2 linked regions of the Homo sapiens genome follow. The protein of the gene in region 1 purifies or fractionates together with the protein of each later gene. This does not show direct contact. Each region holds a gene or a part of one and is shown in the gene's direction. Other genes may lie near its edges.

Evidence for each region. The genes of interacting proteins can lie anywhere in the genome.
Region 2: the proteins of TIMP3 (region 1) and FRAS1 purify together in Homo sapiens (affinity purification with mass spectrometry; one large-scale study listed by BioGRID and IntAct). This does not show direct contact.

The regions. Positions count from the first base shown.
Region 1 is NC_000022.11:32,804,135-32,809,226, forward strand, and holds part of TIMP3 (metalloproteinase inhibitor 3 precursor), read left to right. Parts: intron 1-5,092.
Region 2 is NC_000004.12:78,535,804-78,540,895, forward strand, and holds part of FRAS1 (extracellular matrix organizing protein FRAS1 isoform 1 precursor), read left to right. Parts: intron 1-1,191; coding exon 1,192-1,397; intron 1,398-3,490; coding exon 3,491-3,637; intron 3,638-4,727; coding exon 4,728-5,092. UniProt on the Homo sapiens protein: Involved in extracellular matrix organization. Required for the regulation of epidermal-basement membrane adhesion responsible for proper organogenesis during embryonic development. Involved in brain organization and function.

The DNA.
Region 1 (5,092 bases):
TTGTGGAATCAAAAAGAAAAAAAGAAACAAAAAATCTTCGATGCTCTGGCACGGATCCCAAATTGTTCTGCCTGGGTTTGGTGAGCTGCACTAGTGGCAGGGATGAGCTAATGCTTTTAAAATGGGAGGTGTGGGTGTGAGCTGCTTGCCTGCCGACCTCCCTCGCCTTGCACAGCACCCTGCTGGCGTCCAGTACTTGGCTCCCAAGTTTCATTGCTCAGAGCCTTTCTGGTTTCCAGTCTGGGTTGAAACTGTCTATTCTCGCCCTCAAACAAATATGAAGGAGCTCCCCATTCCTTGGGACCCACACAACCCCACCAGTCAACTTTGTAGCCCCCTAAAGGTGTTCACATCAGCCCATCAACTTCCTGTTTTAAAACCATCATGGTGGTTTTCTCTTCATGGCTTGGTGCCATGTTGGCCTAGCAAAAGGCACAGGAGGCCTGGCCTGGTCCTCTCCGGGGGGCTGCCCGATGGCCTTTCCTCCTGTCTCTGCTCATCCACAGGTGTCTCTTTTTGTCTTTTTTCCCCAAAGTCCTAGGGCCTGGCATGGCATTCTGGGGGAGGAGGAGTTAAAAGGTGTTTCTATGGCAACTCCAGGCCCTGCACCCTATGGAAGTGTTTAGGAGAAGAATAAACTACATGCCGGCTTATAAGACACACTGTGGGGGAAAGAAAGGGACTTGGCAGCAGGCAGGATGTCTGTGGTCCCCCTCCCTGGCCAGTCATTGCCCCTGAAACTCCTGACAAAACCTTGACTCTAGAAGAGGAATGGGAGGGGGCTGGAGATGAAGAAGGCGGCCTCGGCCCGGGCAAATCTGCCCTGGCAGCTCTGTCCAGCTCAGGAAGGGGTGGGCTGTGCCAAGGGCTTTCTGAAAATGTGCGTGTGTGCGTGTGTGTGTGTGTGCGCGTGTGTGGCTTCTGCAAAGGTGGCTGGCAGGGCTGAGGGGGGTTGCAGCAGAGAAAGAGAATTTTGCTTCAGAATGCCAAGCCCTTCTCTCCTTCTCTCTTGCCGCCTTTGCATGGGAGGAATGGGGCTGTAGGATGAAGTGTGTTCGGGGCCTGCCTCTGAGCCTGTTGGGAATTTGAGCATGAGGCTCAGCTGGGGGGCCGGCTGCCAGCCCCAGAGGATGGCCCCTGGATAGCTCCAAATTGTTCTGACAGGGGCCAGTGCCAGCAGATTCTTTCAGTATCAGATCTGAGGTTGTCGTTTTAGCAAAGAAGCCATTTTCAAAGAAACCAGATCCATCCCCTCTCCCTCTTACACACAATTACACCTCAACACTGGGCTTTGCAACTTAAGGAAAATAGAAAGAATCAGACTTTGGAGAGGCGCCAGCACTTGGTAGGGCAAGTCTGGGGGACCCAGGCTGTGGATGTCTTGGAACCATGGAAGGAGGAGAGCTGCTATCCAGCTGGAGGAGGGAAGAGACATGTCTTAGGCCCCTCCTGGTTGCACGCACTTCCCAAATGCCATCTCTTTCACCCCCTCCCCCGACCCCCCACAGCAACCTTAAGAGTAGGTATTGCACCCATTTTTCAGATGGAAAACACTGAGGCTGAAGAGACTGTGCTTGTCCAAGGCCACCCAGTTGCTAAATGATAAAGCTAAAACGTATTATCAGTTATACCATGCTTCAAAAACCTTTCAACTTTCATTGACACATGACATTCTAAGGTGACCAGGAGATGGAATGGATGGTTAACATTTGAAGAATGCTTTTCTTCTACATCTGGGTTTTCTTTAAAAATATGAAGATAGCCAAAATGGCCAGAGGTTTTAATTAAACATCATCTTTAGGGAGGGAGAGCTTATTATTATTCTAGTGTATCATAGAGGAAAATTCTAATGTTCTTTGGCTATTAGATCTGGAAAAGACCCTTGAAACCATCAAGCCACAGTAATAAAAGGACTTGGTTTGTCTCACTGTGGCCCAAGGAGAAGTAAGGTTAATAGAGACAAGACATTTCAGGGCTTCAAGACTCTTCCCTTAAAGGTGGGATCAGTTAGGGCTCCCCAGTGGGAGGTACCCGGTCTGCCAGTGTGGTAGGAGGAAAGCCAGGGGGAGTCAGGAGACTGGGTCCCAGCTGGAGAAGGTGCCCCTCTGACAGTTCTGTGTCCCTTTCACAGTCCCTGGATAGATAAGGCTAGAAAAGTGGCCACAGAAGTAGCTTGGGTGGAGGGATTTTTGTTTGTTTTGCATGAACAGCAGGAACCATTCAGCTCCACTGCTGAATGGCACATTCCAACAGGTTCATTAATTAAAAACAAAAACAACAACACGATTCTCCATCGCACTTGGCTTTTACCATTCCAGCCAGTATGGACAAGGAGGCCCCTTCTTCTACCTTTTGTCATAGTCTACTCCTGGGTGGCCTTGAGAGGCAGGGTGGAGTGGTGGAAAGGCAATGGGGAGGGCAGATCTGAGCTCCACTCCTTCCTCTGGGGCTTGTTGGCTGTGTGTGCCTAGGCACATATGGGCTACCTTTGAGCTTTAGTTTTCTTATTTATACAAGGGGAATAACAATTTGTACCATCTTGGCCTGTTTTATCTATATTTTAAAAGCTACAAGTATATGAATACATTCTATGTCCATGTATGTATCTCTCTGTATATCTATGATATATCCATTTCTATTTATCATTTATCATCTATCTATCTATCTCTCTATCTAAAATCGGAGAAGAGTAAAATCCTTTCTGATTACTTTTTCTAACTCTAGTCCCTTCTCCAAATCCTTTTCTTCCTATACATTTACATACATAGGTATCCATAGCAAATTTATAGTAGTTTTTCCCTTAGAAACATGAATAGTAGAACATTAAACATCATGGAATACCACATAATACCACATATAGTATTCTGCTTGTTTCCCATTCAACAATGCGTACTAGAGATCTTTCTACTTAATATATATATAAAACTGTCAGAGGAGCACCTTCTCCAGCTGGGACCCAGTCTCCTGACTGCCCCCCTGGCTTTCCTCCCACCACATTGGCAGACTGGGTAGCTCCCCCTGGGGACCCCTAACTCATCCCCACCTTTAAGGGAAGAGTCTTGGAACCTTGAAATGTCTTGTCTCTATTAACTTTACTTCTCCCTGGCCACAGTGAGACAAACCAAGTCCTTTTATTACTGTGGATTGATGGTTTGGAGGATATATATATATAAATATATAATATATAAATATATAATTTATATATAATATATAAATATATAATATATAATATATATTATATATAATATATATTATATATAATATATATATATTATATTTACATATATATTATATATATAATATATATATTTCTTTTATGTATTTCATGAGGTTATAATTTTAAACAGCTAATAAGTATAGAGTGATTACTATGTGCCAGGCATTATTCTAAGTCATTAACTTACATTAACTCATTTAATTCTCTCAGTTTTATGAGGGAGGTGTGCTATTGTCATCTCCATTTTACAGCTGAGGAAACTGAGGCTTAGAAAAATGAGGTAACTCGTTTAAGGTTATACTGCTAGCAAGGAATACAGCCTGTATTTAAGCCCCTTCACCCTGGCTCTAAAATATATTTAACAACTATACTATAGGTCACATTATACCATATCATATTATATATACTACTACATACTCTTATATTATTATAATTATATAATATGCATTTTCAATTTTAATAGTTCCTGCCAATTTGGCCTCCACAGTGGCTGTGTTAACACAGTTCTTTTCATATATGCAACATGAGGGGATGGAGGAATGTTAGAGCCCTGTGCTTAAGAGACTCCCATGCTTCTCTCAAATAGAAAAACAATTTATAATTTTTATTGACTTACTGAGTGTTTTTTTTCCTTCTTTTTGTCTCTTTGAAAGGGAGCAAAATTAGGGCCACGAAGATCAAGTTAATGGGAGTATTTTCATAGGGAGAGGAAGGCTGCAATGCCAGGAAAGCTGTGACCCTTGACTTGTTGCATGCTGGAGTAATTCGGTTGAAGATAGCTTTATGTATTTATTTTGCTTTCAGAATAAGCAGTGGACCATTTATTACACCAAGTTGTTTGACTTTGAGGACTTACATGGACTCAGGTTCAAAGGTATATGTGGCTGTGTTTTGAACACACATACACAGGGTTTTGCTTTCTGACTCAAAGCTGTCCGCTGGCCAGGCTCATGGTGGCAGCAAGGGCACTCACTCATCTGTCTCCCTTCTTGTTGCCTATGGATGGCACTTGGGTGAGAGCAGTGGGATGGTCACAAGGAGGAGGATGGACTGCCGAGAGGGAGGCTGGGTGGACCCCAGCCAAGAAGGACGCTGGGGTCTCATTATTATGGGAGCTAGAAGGCCTGGTTTAGGAAAGAATTCCTGTTCTGATGAAAGCTCTTCAGTGGACTCTTAGGATAAAGTATCATCAAATGGCTTTTACAAGGGCCAGTGTGGACCCTGCCTACCTCATCCTCATAGTCTCATCACTGGTCTGTCCTGCTCCAGCTGTTCATACTCTGTCTCTCTGGCTCTTGGCCCATGACACCCCCTCGGTTTTGAACAGTCCTCATTAACTTCTCATTCTCTAGGTCTCCTTTGGTTCCTTTCCCTGATCACTCCTTGGCATTGGTACAGACGAACAGTCATAAACCTTGCCCATATTTTAAGCATGCTGAAAAACACCATCTCTAGTAAAACCCAAATTCTCCAAAGCTGCATGGGAAACTCCCAGAGGGGATCATTCCTGCGCTGGGAGAAAGAACTTAGGGCTGCGTGCCACCCAGAGGGATAAACCTAACCCACTTTAGAGGGTAAGCACCCACTATGCTCTCTGCATTACTTGATAAGTCTAGTCCTGTCTTCTGGTGGACATGATACCCTAGCACCCTCCCAGAGAAGAAAGTGGAGATTTCTAAATGCCAACCCTGCAGGAGATCACAAACATAATACTGTAATTTTCATAGTAAGTTTGGTGCCCTTACTATGTGCCAGGCACTGTACCAAGCTCCTTACTTGCCTATCAGTCATCCCAGCTGCCTGATGAGCTGTCTCAGGCTAGGGAAGCCAAATGGCTTGCCCAAGCTCACACCACTTGCAACCTATACTTGCTTA
Region 2 (5,092 bases), on another chromosome or scaffold:
CAGTGTTTCTTATTACTTATATATTCAAGTCCAGCCTCCTCAGCACGGTTTGTCTATGTCCCCAGGAGCCTCTCCTGCCAGAGCTTCTACACACCCTCCACTCTTGTCACACTGACTTACTTAGCACCACATAGTAAATGTTTGGGATGAGCATTTGGAATTAGCCAGATTTGTGCTAATTCCAAAATCCTCCTCCCACTGCATCATTGCTGTGGAACCTTGGATAAGTTACTTAAAAATGGGAATAATAATTGAAGCTATCTTTTGGGCTCTTGGGAGGATTAAGTAAGTTAGTTGCATGTAAAGAGCTTGGTGCCATAGCCGACACATAGGAAACGGCCTACACCAGGGCTTACATCCTTGAAGCATTCAGTATTTTGTACATGGATTTTTTTTTTTTTTTTTTTTTGCCTAGAGTGTTCTCTCCTGCCTCTCACTCCCACCCCAAATGCACTGTCTGACAAATGCCTACTTGTGTTTCAGGATACTGCTCAAATATCATGTCTCTTGAAACCTTCCATACCATTCCCTAGGCAGATTTCTGTACCTGGTTTCATGCTCTCTTAACATGACATACCTTCCTCTATTGTGGAATGTAACAGTATAGCATTTGGGTGATTAATAAAGTATTGTGGTGGTTTGGTTTGAGAGCATAGTACCTTGACTTGGAATCCCACCCTCACCGTTTGCTTGCTTTGTGACCTTCAGCAAATCACTTAGCCCCACTCAGTGCCTCAGGTTTCTCATCTGCAAAATTGTGAGCACTCCATGAGTTATTACATGAGAGGACTTGGTACAGTACCTGGAAAATAGTATGAGTTTGATAAATATGAGCCTATTTTAGTCAATCACTGTGAGTTTGTTTCCATCCTCTCAACTGCATCTCACACACCTTGGTATCCCCTGTGCATAACAGAATACTTTGCTTCCCTTAAATGCTTAATTAATGCTTATTGAAAAAAAGAAGGCATAAATGTTCCCTAGCAAGAAAACTCAGAGAAAAAAAGAAAATAAGAATAAAAACGAAGCAATAAATGAATGAGTATTTTAGGGGCACATGGAATCATGGAGCTCTTCATAGAAAAGTGCTTTTCACTCTTAAGGGAGCATGTTTAACCCCTTTCAACCCTTGACATTTGTTTTTCTTTCATCTTAAAGTCTGACCTAATTAATACCTTTCAATCTTTTCAGGTCAAATCCTTTATGGCCGAGTACTTTGGAATCCAGAACAAAATCTTAATTCTGCTTACAAACTCCAGCTGGAGAAAGTCTATCTTTGTACGGGCAAGGATGGTTATGTGCCTTTCTTTGATCCCACGGGGACAATCTACAATGAAGGGCCCCAGTATGGATGCATTCAGCCAAACAAACACCTAAAACACAGATTCCTGCTGTTGGTATGCTAAGTTCTCACTATTAGTGTTAAAGAGCAGACACTTGAGCAGATTTCCTCAGCTATGACTTCTGCCTAAAGTAGATAGAGCTCACTCTTGATATTTTCTTCTCTATATATGTTTGTGTTGTTGTTTCTTTCAGATCAGCTAAATACTAGTACATAGGTGGTAGTTACGATGAGTAACAAGACAAACTTCCATTGATGTCCTCAGAAAAGGAAACTCTCGGCCAATGTTTCTCAGAGTATGGTTCAGAGACCTGGAGTGTCCCCATACTCTTTCAGGGAGTCTACAGAGTCAAAATTACTTTCAAAATAATATGATGATGACTCTTTTTTTCATACTTATTCCCTCATGAGTTTAGAGAGTTTAAAAAGTTTATCAATAAAATTTCAGATTCCACATTGTAATGAATCTTTAAAAAATAACCACTCACCAAGTTTTGATTTAGTATCAAAAAAGAGGCAGGGCGTGGTGGCTCATGCCTGTAATCCCAACATTTTGGGACACTGAGGTGGGAGAATCACTTAAGCTTAGGAGTTTGAGACAAGCCTGAGAAACATAAGGAGACCCCATATCTACAAAAAAATATTTGAAAATTAGCTGGGCTTGGTGGCATGCACTTGTAGTCACAGCTACTTGGGAGGCTGAGGTGAGAAAATCACTTGAGACTGGGAGGTCAAGGATGCAGTGAGCCAAGATTGCACCACTGCACTCCAGCCTGGGCAACAGAGCAAGACCCTATCTCAAAAAAAAAAAAGAAAAAAAAAAGCCATAATTGTTTGAAAAAGCTATTAACTACATAGCTTTATGAGGCCAGATTTTCTTCATACACTTTAGACAAAACAGCATATCACAACTGATGGAATTCAGAAGCAGTTATGAGAATCCAGTTTTTTCCCTGAGATTACAAAAATGTAAAACATTGCCAGCTCTCTTTATTGAGGAAGGGAATGAATTTAGGTATTTTCACTAAAAAATATCTTACTTAAGTTAACATGTAATGAGTTTCTTATTGTCAGTTTAAAATGAATTAATAAGTAAACACTTAAAATTTTTTCAGGTTTAATTTTTAACCGAGTAAATGTCGATAGATATAAGTCACATAAACAAAAACTCTCTGGGGTCCTTGATTTGTAAGTGTGTAAAGGGTCCTGAGACCAAATAACTTGAGAAGTATTGGGCTAGAATATCCCACTTTTTGCATTTTGAGATCACAAAAGCCACCACATGTCCTTTTGAAAAGGACAGTGGGTTCCCAGAGTTAGTGTATTAGTCTGTTCTCATGTTGCTAATGACATGCCTGTAACTGGGTAATTTATAAAGGAAAGAGGTTTCATTGACTTACAGTTCAGCATGGCTGGGGAGGCCTCTTACAATCATAGCAGAAGGGGAAGCAAATACATCCTTCTTCACATAGGGGCAGCAAGAAGTGCCGAGCAGAGGGGAAAAAGCCTCTTAAAAAACCATCAGAGGTCCGGGCGCGGTGGCTCAAGCCTGTAATCCCAGCACTTTGGGAGGCCGAGGTGGGCGGATCACGAGGTCAGGAGATTGAGACCATCCTAGCTAACACAGTGAAACTCTGTCTTTACTAAAAATACAAAAAAATTAGCCTGGTGTGGTGGCAGGCTCCTGTAGTCCCAGCTACTCCGGAGGCTGAGGCAGGAGAATGGCATGAACCCAGGAGGTGGAGCCAGCAGTGAGCTGAGATCGCGCCACTGCACTCCAGCCTGGGCGACAGAGCAAGACTCCATCTAAAAAAAAAAAAAAAAAAAATCAGATCTCATGAGAACCCACTCACTATCACAAGAACATCATAGAGGTAACTGTCACCGTGATTCAATTACTTCCTATTGGGTCCCTCCCATGACACATGGGGATTATGGGAACTGTAATTCAAGATAAGATTTGGTGGGGACACAGCCAAACCATATCAGGCAGCCACTGACTTATGGAGAGGGCTTCACAGCACATACTCTCTCAACTCAACCTAAAGCCAGGAGTGATGAGTACTTTTCTCCTCCCAGTCACTGCCACCTACCAATATAGTGGAACCATCTTTCTAAATCTTGCATTTCTTTTTTCTGAAATCCTAGGACCGCAATCAGCCAGAGGTAACTGATAAGTACTTCCATGATGTGCCTTTTGAGGCTCACTTTGCCTCTGAGTTGCCTGATTTCCATGTGGTCAGTAACATGCCAGGTGTGGATGGATTTACTCTAAAAGTAGATGCACTCTATAAGGTGAGTTTGGTGAGAAGAACAGAAGCTTAAGACCAAGTCTACTTTAAAGCTTGAAAAAAAAAAAAAAAAGAAGGAGGACTGCAACATCTCTGGATTCTTCAACATTCTGCCATTCTTGCTGGCAGATCTTTTCTTATTGTTAAGCTTATCACCCACCCAAAATTTTCACATGTATCCCCAGTAGACCAAAACAATTATACAATTATTGACTTTGCATATAGTCACTTGTCATTGTGCACATCATGGCTGCATATGACACTCCAGTTTTTCCTAAGTTCTTTTATATTGCATCCCTTTTTGGTTCTATGCTAGCCCAGCTGATTTTCACGGACATATGAAAAACATTTAAAAAATCATAATACAATACAGCAATTTAGAATAGCAAGAATTACTATTTGATAAACACAAATACCTTAAGTCTTAGCAATGAACATGAACTTTCAAGATGAAATTTCACTTTTTTTGTCTCTAAATATTAATCTATGACCCTTCAGAACTATTATCATGCTTCAGAAGTTATTTCGAAACCATGAAGCATTTTAATGGAGGAAGATGAGGGGGAGATAAAATACTTGATGATATAGCCTGATTGAGAAGGTGTTTAGAAAATGTTTGTCACGTATCTGTGTATTATGCACAGAGTATATGTTTAGTGAATATTTTGTTGAATGACTCCATTTTCGCTGAAGTTCACCAATAAATAGTAAATTGGCATAACACATAATTGAAGGTCACTGTAAATAAATGTGGTTTTTAATGCTATTATTTCACTGCTATCAATAAAGACAGACAAATATAAGCATTCACTTAGCTAAAGAGACCATGAAAGATAATTTCTTAGGCTATTCCATGTACACATAGGGAAACAAAAAAGAATCCGAATAGCTGACTCAAGATCATCTTAATTTGGAAATAAAATAGAACCCATATCTGGTTCAGTTCTCTATGTATTAGTAGACACCAACCATTGCTAATGCTTTTCTGGAAATCAGTTATCTATCAAGGCATATAGTGGCAATTATCCTTCCATTTCCTTTCTTCAGAGGTGGTCTGTGGGCAACAACAACATGTTCGGTTTGTCCCCCTGCAGGTGGAAGCAGGACACCAGTGGTATCTCCAGGTCATCTACATCATTGGCCCTGACACCATCTCAGGGCCCCGGGTCCAGCGCTCTCTCACAGCTCCACTCAGACGCAACCGAAGGGACCTGGTAGAGCCCGATGGCCAGCTGATCCTTGATGATTCCCTCATCTATGACAATGAAGGAGACCAAGTCAAGAATGGCACCAATATGAAGTCCCTGAATCTGGAGATGCAAGAGTTGGCGGTAGCTGCGTCCCTGTCACAGACTGGGGCGTCCATTGGCAGTGCCCTGGCTGCAATCATGCTTCTACTTCTGGTGTTTTTGGTGGCTTGTTTTATCAACAGGAAATGCCAGAAACAGAGGAAGAAGAA